Linked DNA regions of Homo sapiens. The protein of the gene in region 1 interacts with the protein of each later gene in a pairwise test. Each region holds a gene or a part of one and is shown in the gene's direction. Other genes may lie near its edges.

What was found.
Region 2: the proteins of ZNF837 (region 1) and BAHD1 interact in binary tests that used the Homo sapiens proteins (3 or more experiments, as listed by UniProt).
Region 3: the proteins of ZNF837 (region 1) and GPATCH2L interact in binary tests that used the Homo sapiens proteins (3 or more experiments, as listed by UniProt).
Region 4: the proteins of ZNF837 (region 1) and BEGAIN interact in binary tests that used the Homo sapiens proteins (3 or more experiments, as listed by UniProt).

The regions. Positions count from the first base shown.
Region 1 is NC_000019.10:58,367,123-58,371,030, reverse strand, and holds the end of ZNF837 (zinc finger protein 837), read left to right. Parts: intron 1-1,102; 5' UTR 1,103-1,212; exon of another isoform or gene 1,213-1,314; intron 1,315-1,669; 5' UTR 1,670-1,698; coding exon 1,699-3,294; 3' UTR 3,295-3,408; downstream 3,409-3,908. UniProt on the Homo sapiens protein: May be involved in transcriptional regulation.
Region 2 is NC_000015.10:40,443,953-40,447,452, forward strand, and holds part of BAHD1 (bromo adjacent homology domain-containing 1 protein), read left to right. Parts: exon of another isoform or gene 1-1,449; coding exon of another isoform or gene 1,450-1,591; intron 1,592-3,500.
Region 3 is NC_000014.9:76,158,422-76,161,921, forward strand, and holds part of GPATCH2L (G patch domain-containing protein 2-like), read left to right. Parts: intron 1-3,500.
Region 4 is NC_000014.9:100,563,418-100,566,917, reverse strand, and holds part of BEGAIN (brain-enriched guanylate kinase-associated protein), read left to right. Parts: intron 1-3,500. UniProt on the Homo sapiens protein: May sustain the structure of the postsynaptic density (PSD).

The DNA.
Region 1 (3,908 bases):
TGACCTCGTGATCTGCCCACCTAGGCCTCCCAAAGTGCTGGGATTACAGGCGTGAGCCACCGCGCCCGGCTCCCCCCCCCCGGCCTTCACCCCTCCCTCCCTCTCTCTCTCTTTTCTTTTTTTCCTTTTCTTTTTTTGAAAGAGTTTCACTTTTGTTGCCCAGGCTGGAGTGCAATGGTGCGATCTCGGCTAACTGCAACCTCCATCTCCCGGGTTCAAGTGATTCTCTTGCTTTAGCCTCCTGAGTAGCTGGGATTACAGGCACGCACCACCATGCCTGGCTAATTTTGTATTTTTAGTAGAGACGGGGTTTCTCTATGTTGGTCAGGCTGGTCTCAAACTCCTGACCTCAGGTGATCCATCTGCCTCGGCCTCCCAAAGTGCTGGGATTACAGGCGTGAGCTACCGTGCCCGGCCGTCCTTTGTTTTCACTTGCTATTCAATTGCTTGCTTAGGAGATGAATATTTATATATGCACGTGTGTGTATCTCAGCAAAGTCCACTGTTGTAAGCAGAATAATGGCCCCCTGAAAGATCTGCACGTCCTGTTTCCTAGAACCTCTGACTATGTTACTTCACAAGGCAAAAGAACTGAGTGTGATGAAGTTTTGGATCTTGAGATGGGGAGATTCCTGGATTATGTGTGGTTGGCCTAGTGTGATCACAAGAGGCAGAAGGGTCAGAATCCTATAAGGAGTATAAGGAGATTTGACAACAAACCCAGAAAGAGAGAGATGAACATGTCTTACTGCTGGCTTGAAGATGGAAGAAAGAAAAGTAGGTGGCACCTAGAAGCTGGAAATGGTCAGCAAACGTCCTCCCCAAGAGCTTCTGGAAGGAACCCACACTACTGAAACCTTCACTTAGGACTTACGACCTCCAGAACTCTGAGATAACAAGTTTGCACTGTCTCAAGCCACTATGGGGTGGCAGTTTGTTAAAGCAGCTTTAACAATAGATAACTAATACAGCCACAGTGTAATTTTAAAATAGTAATAGCAGGCGCCAGGCGTTGCTAATGTTCACACTTGCTTGAATGATCTGGGCTGCCTGTCTCCCTACTCAGCTGGTTATACTTACCGTTATCATACCCATTTTGTAGATGAGGCTGCCAGCCTTGAGAGCACCACCGTTACCTGGTTGAAGAGGGGAGGGGAAGTCCAGCATTGGCCTCTGCAGCGTGGATCTCCCGGCCAGGCTCTCAGCTGTCAGGTGAGTCTCACCTCACACCTCTCAGAAGACATGGACAATGGCAGTGAATGGAGCCAGGAGGACCCGGAGTGTCGGCTTGCCACTGAGAAACGGAGGGCAGGAGTAAGTGAGATTTTGGGGAGCTGGCAGCTGAGCAACGGGGGAGTCCCTGTTGCTTGGGGAAGGGGGACCAGGGAGGGCCTTAGCCAGGGGCACAGTGTTTTAGGAGCTAGTGTTGGGGAGGAACGGTGATGGCGGGCAGGCAGAGCCTGGGAAGCTGTTCTCTGGGGTCTGGGTGGTGACAATTTGAAGAGGGGCAGGACGGGCTGCCTATGTCACTCCATTTACCCTTTCGCATCTGCAGAGAGCTGGGGGCCGCCCAGTAGGTGCCAGCTGTGGGGTGGTCGCTCGTTGGCCCAGTTCTCCACTTCTCTCCTCCTGGGAACCGCCAACCTCCATTTCTTCTCTGCTCTTCCAGATCCTACAACCAGAACTCTGCGCCCCAGGATGGAGGCTCCAGCCCAGAAGGCTGGGCAGGGAGGACTCCCCAAGGCCGATGCCCAGGGTGCCTCCGGGGCCCGGGAGAAGAGGCCCGAGGAGCCGAGGCCCCTCGAAGAGGACCGAGCTGGGAGCCGCCCCACTCAAAAGGGGGACCTGCGTGGAGCGGCGGGCGGTAGGACGACTCCCCCAGGCGGGGGCTCCCGGGGCTGCAGCCTCGGGGTGAGCCCCGGCCCGGGGACCCGGCACAGCGCCGGGACCAGACCCCTCGTGCGGGAGCCGTGCGGCCCCACCTCTTCTCAGAACCCTGAGCTGGTTATCCCCGAGGGGCTGCAAGCCCGGGAGGGCCCCTGTAGGAGCCCAGCGCGTGGCGGGGACTGCAGCAGGAACTCCTGCCTGGCGTGGCATCGCGGGGCGCCCGCTGGGGAGACGCCACCCGTGTGTGACCCCTGTCCGGAGCGGATCCAGAACCACCCCCGGACTCAACTGTGTGAGGTCCACACGGACTGTTGGCCGTGCCAACCAGGGACTGGCGCTCCGACCTGCCCGAGGACCCCAAAGCCGACCTCCCGCGGGAGGAACCCCTTGGTGGAGCAGCCCCGGGCTTGCGCGTGCGGCGAGGCCTTTGCGTGGAGGGCCCTGCGGATCCCCCAGGAGAGGCTGCAGGCGACGGAGGAGCCCCGTCCGTGTGCCCGGTGCGGGAAGCGCTTCCGCCCCAACCAGCAGCAGCAGGCGGGCAAGAGTCCCCCAGTGTGTCCTGAGTGCGGCCAAACCTCGCGACCTCGCCCTATTGTCCCCGACCCCCCGGCCCAGCGACTGTACGCTTGCGACGAGTGCGGCAAGGCCTTCACGCGCACCTCCAGCCTGCTGCAGCACCAGCGCATCCACACGGGCGAGCGGCCCTACGAGTGCGCCGAGTGCGGCAAGGCCTTCGTGCGCTGCTCCGGCCTGTACCGCCACCAGAAGACGCACTCGGCCGAGCGCCACCGGCGTGGCCCCGTCCTGGCGCGGCGCGCCTTCCGGCTGGGGTGCCCGCCCTGCGGGGACTACAGCGAGCGGAGTCCCCGACGGGGGTCGGGAGCCGGGGAGAAGCCGTACGAGTGCGCCGACTGCGCCAAGGCCTTCGGGCTGTTCTCGCACCTCGTGGAGCACCGGCGCGTGCACACCGGCGAGAAGCCCTACGCGTGCCCCGAGTGCGGCAAGGCCTTCAACCAGCGCTCGAACCTGAGCCGGCACCAGCGCACTCACAGCAGCGCCAAGCCCTACGCGTGCCCACTGTGCGAAAAGGCCTTCAAGGGCCGCTCGGGCCTGGTGCAACACCAGCGCGCGCACACCGGCGAGCGGCCCTATGGCTGCTCCGAGTGCGGAAAGACCTTCCGCGGCTGCTCCGAGCTGCGCCAGCACGAGCGCCTGCACTCGGGCGAGAAGCCCTACATCTGCCGCGACTGCGGCAAGGCCTTCGTGCGCAACTGCAGCCTGGTGCGCCACCTGCGCACGCACACGGGCGAGCGGCCCTACGCGTGCGGAGATTGCGGCCGCGCCTTCAGCCAACGCTCCAACCTCAACGAGCACCGGAAGCGGCACGGGGGCCGCGCCGCGCCTTGACTGCAGGGAGCCGAGAGTCGACGCGTCGCCCAAGCGAACCCTGCGTCGAGGAGGGGCCTTTGTCCCGGAAAACCCACCAACGTTTGTAACTTTGATTAAACTTCACTTTGTACACATGGCGTCCACAGGCTTCCCCTAACTCGAGTTTTATTTGACCTTTTCTAACCGGGCGCACAGCATCCGGTTGCAGGCATAAGCAGTAATAATCTCGAGTGGGCGCTGATACGGCCCAGACGCTGTGTCCACGATCTCTAGGGTCTTTTTCTCCGCAGAGCCGCGGAGCGTGTTACTGGGCTCTCTGGTATGCGAGGAAACGGGGCAAAGTGACTCTCCTGAGGCACGAACATAAGACGATGGAGGCAGGATTCGAACCTAGGGTCTCTCATATCCCTTAGGCAGCTTCAGGAGCCTTGGGACCGCGGGGTATTTGCACACCCTCTACCGTAGCCGGCCTGGCACAGCTCGTAACCCTCCAGAGGTGAGACCTCGGGGCAGGCTTCTGCCTGTCCCGGCCCTGGCAGCTCGGTAGTCGCGGCAGAAAGGGTTCCCTTTGGTGAAGTGTGAAGCCCTGGCAAGCTTGCCCTGGTCTGACTGACGAGCGGGGTCGCCTTTAT
Region 2 (3,500 bases), on another chromosome or scaffold:
CTTGTCCTTAGTCTGGTTGTTGCTCAGACCACTCCAGGCCAACATAGTCATCCCCGCCTGAGCTCATGACTCTGGATTTTCTAACGTGGTATCCTCTTGAGTGGTTTTGTAGGTTGGAAATTTCTTAAGGACAGGAACAATATGAGTGTTAAACCTCTGTGTGTGTGTGTGTGTGTGTGAATATTCTGGTATTTCTTGTACAGTGCTGTGCACATCATTTTTGTTGAGTGAATAAATGTGGTTGGTTGCTGAGTTAGGCAGGAACAAGGGGGAGACCTTCCTTTCAGCTTCTCCAGAAATGCTCATATTGGAGTCCTTGGAGATTTCCAGCCCTTTCTGTCAAAGGCATATGGATAGGGCATGTTTGGGGTGCTGTAAATGGGAAATTTAACTGCTGTTTCTAATATTTCTGCTGGTGAAGAGTCCTATGGATTGCTTATGTGATACCATATAGACATTGGAAAAGGGCTGTAATCCTGTTTTCCTCCTACCTCACCGGACCACCATTCTTTCTACCCAGCTTTGCTGCTCTTATGCAGTTTTCCTTGTTGTTCATGCTAAATGAATCCATGTTTTATCTCTTCTCAAACCGGGTGCAAATGAGGGAGAAAACACAATTCTGAGCACAGAAAAGAAAAATACTCCTGGGTCTGGCCCATAGATGGGACTTTTGGGGCTGGTTTGGAAGAGGTGTTTATGGGGGCATCACCAACATAAGAGGCACAATCAGCCCCACATTGGACCCCTCATAAAGGAAAGCTACAATCCCTGCTCTCTCAGGCTTCTGTTTTGGTTCACCATCAACCCTGGACCATGGGGGAAACGGGAAAGAGGACTGGTGACTGGTTAGAGGCCAGATAGTGAAAAAATATATTCTGCATCCATCCCCTTTCCCCCAAACCTCCCTTTTGTGCCCCAGTTTGATGATTAATGGACCAGCATTTCCCTTCTACGCGGGAAGGCCACCCCTCACAGTTGCCATGGCAATGCAGACCGCTCCCCCGTCAATTAAAAAAAAAATCCCTACTACTTCTCTCCTCCTTCTACTGTAGCAGGAGAAAAGCTACCTCAGAATGCATCTCCTGGGCTCTCTTCTCAGCTCCTTTAGCTGTGTTTGCTGTGTGTCCTAGAACACAGTCCTTCCTCTCTTTCTGGGGATTGCCTGAGTTTCTTCACTCTGAGCAAATTGTGCCCCTTCTGGAGCCAGCAGCCCCTGGAACACTTATATCAAGAAACAGAGAAAATTTCTGTTTATTTATTCATCCCCGGTGCAAATTAAAAACTAGAGAGAGCTCCTTTTGGGTAAAAAAAAAAAAAAAAAAAACAACCCTTTCACACCTTCTCTGGTTAGAGGTATAAGTTGGGGCACATTTGACATCCAGAAAGGAAGTTTTAGTAAACCTGGAAGGAATTCAGCCTCCTAGCATACATACTTCAAATTGGAGTTCTATGGGGAATTCTCAAAATTATTTTCATTCCTCCTCACCTCTCTGTTCCAGCATCCAGGAGGACTTGTGTGTTTTCATTTTATCTGTTCTTATTCCTCTTGGCCTTGCTCCGGCAACATCTGGCCTCAGCACCCTGTCGCAAGGTGAGTCATTAAGGAGAATAAAAACCTTAAGGAAAAAAAGTCTCTGGAGTTGAGAAGTAGCCTGTGTTGAACTAAGGCTGCCAGGCGAAGCTGCCGAGTTTATGGAGCATTATACGAACAGCCCCGACATTAAAGGGCCTCCTTTTTATGAATGGGTTGTGAAGAATGTAAATAAAGCAGCATCTCTCAATGGGGAAGCATTTTACATAAGCAGTACTACCCCGACCCAAGTATTTATGGGAATTTGCTAGCACAGTCTGGCAAGGCTCACTTCCTTTGTGAACTTGCCATTGTGCTGGGGACTTTGGAGGGACAAGGAGAGTGTGCTTCGGTTCTGAGGGCAGCCCCAGCACTCCCACTCTGCAGGTTTCCTGGCGTTGACTTGATGGGCCAGCTCATGGCTGGAAATGCCTGTTAACCCTGAAGTGACAGAAAATACCATGCGCAGTCAAGAGCTCATGATAATTAGAGATAGAGGCTCCTGATCCTGGGGTCTGGAGATGGTGTAGCTCCTGACCCCTCAGGCTGCTTAGACCTCCACAGGACAGAGGACAGGGAGTTCTTGGATGATGAAATCTTGCCCGGTTTTATGGGAGGCACCTAAGTGGTGTAAAATGGGCTGGTTTGAATTTCAGCTCCTTTATGTTCCCCTGCCCACCTCCTGGTACTGCCACTAATGATCAGTAAAATGGCTAAAAAGGAGGAGGAGAAAGAGCACCAGCAGCAGTGAGGCTGCACGTGGTCTGCTCAGGGCCAGACGGCCTGACAAGCACCCTCACTGAACACCGGCCCAGCCCTGGGGTTCCAACAGGGGTGTTGGTGTCCTGCCCCAGGTGACTTGGTAAGCAGGCCCTGGAGTACAGTCACATCCAGGACTTTGTGTTGTGTCCCTGTGGGTGGGAGTGGGGTCATCAGATTTCATTTTTCCCAGTGGGAAACACCTGCAAGGATGGTTATTCACTTGACTCAGTGTCCCCCCAACACAAAAAAATAACATTGTCTTTTAAGATCCTCTGCAGGCCCAATCCACCAGGAGAAAAAAAGGGGTTTGTCTCTCAGCCTCGCTGATTTGAATTGGGAACTTATTTCTAAGCACTATGACCAAGTTAGCTGAATGAAAAAAAACAGGTGATTTCTTAGTCTTGTTACCAATGTCAGGCAGGAACTTGGGTCTCAATATTTTTTCTTGCATGTGTTCCTTTTCCAGTGGGTTTGGGGAAAAGAGGTGCTTTGACCTCCTGTCTTTGGGTAAGGAGGATGGGACCTGTCTTTCTGCCGTTCTCTTGACCCCAGGGATCTCACCTGGAGTGCTGTTGATGGCTCCTACTTTTATTCCATCTCCAATGCCTTTTGGGGACTCCTAGCCTCCATCAGTGCAGCTTTTTCAGCTTCCTGCGTGCAGTGGAGAGGGGCAGCCCACACAGACCCTTTTCCAACTCTGGTTACCTGTCCACAATGTTTAGGAATAATTGTTAATCACATTCTCATGTGGCCAGGTGGTTTAAAGGTGAATTACTGTTTTTTAGAGGACCTATGTAGAAATCGTGGGAAAGGTATTATTAGGGTGCCGCTTGATGCCAGGAGATCCTAACAAGTATGCCAGAAGGAGGGGTGAAGTCACGTTTCCACCATAGTCAGGGCCAGCAGGGCCTTCCTCAGTAGTGAGGGGTGTCTCCTGCTTTGTGCCTGGAGGGGTTTCCACATTGGCTAGAATGTAAAAAAGAATTATAAAAATGATTGAGGCCAGGTGCCGTGGCTCACACCTTTAATCCCAGCACTTTGGGAGGCTGAGGCGGGTGGATCACTTGAGGTCAGGAGTTCAAGACCACCCTGGCCAACATGCTGAAACCCCGTCTCTACTAAAAATACAAAAATGAGCCGGGTCTGGTAGCATACACCTGTAATTCCA
Region 3 (3,500 bases), on another chromosome or scaffold:
TCCATCACCTCTCACTTTAACTCCCCCAAACTCTTTAATTATGAGTGTGCTTTGCTCCAGGTGTTTGTGACAGTGAAATTGCTAAATGAGGACCATTTTAACCAAAGATTGGGTGATCAATAACACTCTATAGCAGTAGCTTGTTGGATCAATAGCATTCATTATTTCATGGTTAAGGTAAGTAGCCTCCTTTGCAAGTGGAGGTCATTAATCAGGGTTTCCTGGAGCTGTGTAAAAGAATATGTATGGTAGGTGGGGGTGTTCTGTTTTCTATTCTGTAAGTAGGGATGCTGACCAAGAATATATTTACCATTGTTGCAGTTGGTAGTATTGCATGTGAGATTCTCGAATAGCTAGCATAGTGTGCTTATGTGGGTATATTCACAGTTCTGCTAGTATCCTTAGGGACAACTAAAACACACAGCTTGGGAGGTCGATATGATACTATTGTACTTGAAGGTCTATCTCTTGAAAGAAACATCCATCTCGTAAAAGAGTCTACCTCTTAAAAGAAATATTGGGATTGTTCTGTGTGGCTCCACAGGACAGAACTCAGGGATAGAGAGTACAGAGTGTTAAATGTTGCTGCGGTTAAAAAATAAGATTCTAAAAATTAGGACTCTGTAAAAATGAAGTGAATTGTTTCACCATGTAATGCGTAATAACTTCTAGATCAGGTGGGGGGATTCAAACATGGGCTTGATGACCGCTTACTTAGTTGCTGTGGAGTTGAGAAGGTTGAACTGAAGGCTTCTGAGATCCCTTGTAACACTGAGATGCTGCGATTCTTTTCAGTCACAGTCTACTTCCCACCATTGTAATGTCTTAACTGGTAAGTAGCCTCAACTGCCCACTTGAATTCTTGTGGTTCCCACTGGCAGTCATCTTCAAAGATTCATTCTTTCTCTCAACTTTTAGAATGATATTCCCTTTTCTCTTATTTCGCAGAATTTGTTCAAAGGCCTCTTGGTATTTGCCAGCAAGGGTGCATAGATTACCCTTGGTCCCCTTCTCTACTCCCGTGGACATAGGTAACTGCCATTCTCAGATCTACAGCTGGCCAAGAGAATATGCAGAGCCCCTAGCCCAGTGCTCCCAGTGCTACTGGGAGGCTTTTATCTCATACAGCTATGCTGGACTGAGATAGGATCATCTAACCCTCACTGCTTGATTCTGACCCCATTCCAGGAGTGTGCCGTAAATGAAGGTGTAGAAAACACTGCAGTCTCCAGAATGTACTGTCTCCAGAATGCACTTCTCTGCCCATGTCAACTGGAATCTTTGTTCTTGAAGACTATACTTTCTAGGACTCAATACCCTATAACTGCTTCCTACCCTCAAACACAAATACACACAGAAAACACTAAGCTTCCCTATCCAAGTGTATTCTGGGAGTTAGAGCCACCAAATAGAAACTGAAAGATACTCAGGCCGGGCGTGGTGGCTCACGCCTGTAATCCCGGCACTTTGGGAGGCCGAGGCAGGTGGATCACAAGGTTAGGAGATCGAGACCATCCTGGCTAACATGGTGAAACCCCGACTCTACTAAAAATACAAAAAAATTAGCCTTGGCGTGGTGGTGGACGCCTGTAGTCCCAGCTACTCAGGAGGCTGAGGCGGGAGAATGGTGTGAACCCGGGAGGCGGAGCTTGCAGTGAGCCGAGATCACACCACTGCACTTGAGTGCACTCGAGCCTGGGCGACAGAGCGAGACTCTGTCTCAAAAAAAAAGAAAAAAGAAACTGAATGATGCTCAATGGGAAGAGAAGGATAGAACCACACCCTGCCTCAACCTGTAGCTGCCTGATTTTCTGACTGAAACTGGCCTTGCATTTCTGAACTGCAAGGTGACTGTAGAGAAAGGATGCAGGGGCTTGCTATCTACCTTCAGGGCAGGCTCAGCACTTCTAACGTGGGCCTCCATTTCATTGTCAAGTGTGGTTCTATCAGCCTTGTAGTTTGAGGAAATCTTGGCAATAGGCCATCTGTATTCTCTATTGCTACAGAAAAAAATCGCCCTAAAACTTAGTAGCTCTAAACAAAGAGACCAAGTCTGTGAGTATGTAAATATTCCCAGGGAAGAAACCAAAGTGCTGGAGAAGAAGATACAACTGAAGAGAAAAAAGTGTTCTTGAGTTGAAAAATTAAGTCTTAAGATTAAAAGCGAAAATTAATGAGAAGAGACTTCTACTGAGACGGAGATTTTAAAAAAATATTTTATTTTAGTTTTTCTTTTTTTCACATATGCTCAAGACTAAGGAAAGAAAAATCTTAAAAGGGGTTGAAGACTGGGTGCAGTGGCTCAGACATTCTTAGATATGCAGGCCCCAGAATCCATGTTCTTTAAAAATTTACTGTGAGAAGACGTTCCATCTACCTGAAGATGAATCACTGTTAGCTCTAAGAAAAGGGAAGTCTTGAAAGGATGGGTGGACTTCTCTGAGGCACAGCCCCCAGCTCAATAGCAGAGTCCTGAGGAAAATTCTGTCTCTGCAAAGTATACCTGATTGTACTAGTCACAGTATCGAACCTGTCAACCTGCGGAGGTTGCTGCCTTTCATGGCACTGTCTGAATGAAACTGAAAAAGAAATTCTTTTATTATATATTCTCATTACTTATAGGAATAATTTCAGAACTGATGTGAGATATTTCTCTGAATAACCTCTCCCTCAGTCTTGTTTACTACTAGATTCAGAAGTCTGATTACAAAGGGTTACCAGTGTGCCACCTCTACCCTGGAAAAAAACTGGAAAACGATAGAACAAAAATACCTTTGGGCAGTAGATCTAAGAGTGACTTTTTTCCACGTTTTTCTAAATTCTGAAACAACTTTTATTTTTGTTAAGTGCATTATTATTTACTAAGAAAAGTTTTTTAGAATGACGATGTAAGCCATAAACTTTAAGATATCTATTAATTAGATGCAAAAAACACCTCTTATTAAGCTACTTGGTTAATAAGCTCTTAAATGGGGAGAAACAAACCCAGATGGTAATTTATTAATACCAACTTTTGATTGTAGGTGATAAAGTAATTCTGTACCTCCTTATTATAATTGGAACAGGTATAAGTTACTCTTTCAGTTCTCACTTTACAGTCTTCTGTGGTTAGGAGTATGAAAGAATTAGCAAGCTCTCAGATCAGAGGGTGTGCTGTGCTTTTTTCCCACCCCCTGCTCCCCCTGGCAATTTTGGGAATTCAGAGGGGTTTATTTTGTTGAAACTAGAAGCTACTGTTTAGGAAGAAGGGAATTAATTTCAACAAAGAGTTTATAAAGATTCTGTATTATCTGTTGCTGCAGAAAAAATTGCCCTAAAACTTACTAGCTCTAGGACGGGTGCGGTGGCTCATGCCTGTAATCCTAGCACTTTGGGAGGCCTAGGCGGGTGGATCACCTAAGATCAGGAGTTTGAGACCAGCCTGACCAATGTGGTGAAACCTTGTTTCTACTAAAAATATGAAAATTAGCCAGGCGTGGTAGCACAGGCCTGTAATCCTA
Region 4 (3,500 bases), on another chromosome or scaffold:
GCTTGGAAACACCCAGGTGGGAGCCTGGGGGCAGGTGGGCTCACACAGAGACCCAGGGTGGACTCTCAGAGCAGGGCCATCTCCTGGGCCATGGAGCTGATGTGCAGCCCCCACTGTGGGTCCCACAGGGACAGGACCAACATGTCTTGTGCTGGGAGGAGGGGTCCAGTCTCTGAGGTGGTTCAATCTCAGACCCCAAATACCTGATACCCATCAGCCAGGCCCACCTTGTCGTGGCCAAGGTCCAGGTGGGGGCGGTGAGGCCCAAAGAGCGACAGCCCTGGCTGTGGTCACACAGATGACCTCAGGCCCAAACTCAGGCTCTGGCCCAGGCCAGGGCCCTTCCCTGGTGCCCCACATTGGCTGTCATTTCACCACCTGGGTTGTACCGCCTGTGGGGGGGAGGAAACACTGCTTAACTCAGCTGAGACTTGAGGAAAAACTTAGCATTCATGGGGTGCCCTGAGGCCAGCCTGGGGGTTCCCTGCGGTGGTTCTCTTTCTCTTTCCCTCCTTCCCTGTGCCCGGCCAAGGCTCTCCGGCACCTATTCCTGTGTGCCAGGCACTGAGGACAGAGGCATGACCCCGCCCGGCTGGGTGCACAGGTAGGCAGGTGTGCCAGGTGGGCGGATCTGCTGCCTGAGCTGCTGATGGCGTCAGCGTTGCTGTCCCAGGCGGGCTGAGGCTTCCCTGGGCTAAGCCATAAAGGCTGGAGGCAGTGGCCAGGGCCTGGGCTCCTGGGCTGCATCGGGCCATGTGGCCTTTCTGGAGTTGCCAGGGGTGGCGTGGGGCAAGGACTCCTAGAACTGGGGAGGGGTCCTGCCCTCCTCTCCCTCTCACCCAATTAGTGTTCTCAGAGTTGCCTGAAGGGCTTTTCCAGAATCTTCCCTTCTGGCCAGTGTCGGGGCTGCCCCAGTGGGTTTCTGTCCTGCATTTGGTGCCTGGGATTCAGAACCAAAAGCCCAGGGGAGTGGAAGGGAAGTTGGTCAGCATGGCTTCCTGCACAGAAGGGCACAGGGTTTGGGGTCCCACAGACCCAGTCACTGACAAAGTCCTGGCCCTGGTTGGGCCTCAGTTTTCTCATCTGTAAAGTGGGTGTCCTAACCACAACCAGGTTGCAGGGATGTTGGGTGCCGTGAGCCCCTGTGGTGGAAGCATCTCTCCTGGGACCTGGCCCAGAGCAGGCCCAGGTAGAGGGTCTCTGGGGAACCTCAGACCACACGGTGGTCACAGTGAAGGGGTCCTGAAGTGTCCACAGGGATGACCCTATGGTCGGTCCTGCCTCCTGGCCCCTGGACTGTGGAGTCTGCACATCACAGGCTGGGTCTGTGGGTCTGGATTGAGCTCTGAGAGTGCTGGTCCTGGCCCCCTCCTCTCCCACACCCCCCAGGGCCTGGAGCCAGGACTGACTTATGGGACAGTCCTGTAAATATTTGCTGAAGAGCAAAAGGACCATGTCACCTGGTGGCACTGTGGCCCTCAATGGCTCCCTTTGGTGGGCAGGTGTACATTGAGGGGTCTCTCTTCCCTGGTCCCTCCCACTGGCTGCCCCCCCATGCTGTCGCCCTGCTTCCGAGTTCCCCACAAGCTGCCACCTTCATGCCCCTGCCTTTGCCCACGCAGTCCCTGCTGTAGAGAATGCCCTTCCCTGCCTTCTTGTCCACATGACAAACTCTGTGTCTTCCCTGTCGCCTTTTCCCTGGGGTTTTCATGACGCTCTTGCCCCTCCCTCCCAAGTGGACTCCAGCCCCCTCTGGGTACCAGCTCTGTGAAAAGACCCGGTTGGCCCTCCAGTGCCGGGGACAGAGGCCCACAACAGATCCTCCTAGGCCAGCGGACAGAATACAGAAGGGGTTTGCCCACAATGCTCTGGGGTCCCAGGTTGTGAACCCTGGCCTGGGGTATTGGGAAGAGCTTCCGGGAAGCAGGGACACTTGAGCCAAGGCATGAAGAATGGGTAGGAGTTTCCAAGGACAGACAGGCCACCCTCCAAGAGGTGCAAAGGCCTGGGGGCTGCCCAGAGCAGATGTGTTTAGGGAAGACAGGTAAGGGGTGGGGAGTGGAGGTCAGTGGGGCTCCCACTGACATCTGGGGTGTCTTCTGTCTTCCCCAGGGCCCCAGATGGGCACCCCAGAGAACAGAGCCGGGGTCTGGCCCCTGGTGTTCTGACAGCCACAGTGCCTGGCAGAGGCTGGCGCACAGTAGGGCTCCCACAGGCCGGGGGGCCACATGGTAGATATGCAGCCACACCATTTGATGGCCTGGCCACCTTGGCTCTTGTCCTTTGACCCTTGCTCAGCCACACTCAGCTATCTTGTCTTCGACTGCTTGGAAAAACTATTCTTGTGACTCTCAAATATTTATAGATATTACCAAGTCCCGGCTGGCTCTCCGTGTGCTCAGAGCCTCTGTGCCTCTAATCCCTCAAATTAATCCCCTCCTCTCCCTCCAAACAGGGTCCCTCCTGCCTGCCTCCTGCAGCGTGCTGCTGGGCAGCCCCTTTTTCTATTTGAGCTTCGGTTCCCTCCTCTGTCAAACAGAGAAGTGGGTCAGTCGCCTCTCATGGCTCCTGGGGTGCCCAGAGCTACTCCTGTTTGGTGTCCACGTTTTCCCCCCAAAATAGAATTTTTCAAAGTCGTGAACTGTGATAGGCCTGCAGAGACATTAATAAATATCCGCACAGTTCAGTGGTTAAGTTTAGAACGACCACCTGGCGACCACCACCTGTGTCAAGGAGTTCAACATGGCCAACCCCCGAGATCCCCCGAGACCCTTCCCCACAGACAGCCCCATCCTGCTCCCGGCCAGCCCCTAAGATCCCCCGAGACCCTTCCCCACAGACAGCCCCATCCTACTCCAAGCAGTCACCGGGACACCGACCTTGTGCTCAGTGGTTCCTTGCTGTCCTCGTGGTTCTGCCACCTGAGAGGGCATCCCCAGCAGAGATGGTTGTATGTTGCCTGCTTTGGGACCTCATACCTGGATTCCTTCAGCCTGTGTTTTGGGGGTGGCTTTTTTTCACCAAAACTATTCTGTTTGTGAGGGTCCCTTGTGGTGGTAGGTGGAGCTACCAGTTGCTGTTGTCATGGTGGCTTCCCTGAAATCCGTTTGTTCCCTGGCAGACTGCCGGGCACTGTGCAGCCTGGGCCACCTTAGGAAACTCCTGTGCGGGTGTCTGGGGATGTGGGCTGCGATTCTGGGTGTGCACCCTCAGTGGAACCTCCGGGGCACAGGGTGCGCATAGGGTCAGCTCTGGAAGATCGGAACAGACTCTTGAAACCGCTTCTCCCCATCACTGTCCCTCCAGCGTTGTTGGGGTGGGCTGCCCTGGTTTGCTGCCCGCTGGGTTTCCTCACCGGCGAAGGCCGTGCGCATTTTCTACCAAGGTGTTTTTCCCATTGATTTGTGGGAGCTCTTCACACTGTCAGTTACACATGCAGCAGCCACACCTCCTGGGGGACGCCGCGTCTCGCTGTTCACACGGTCCTTCTATGAACAAAA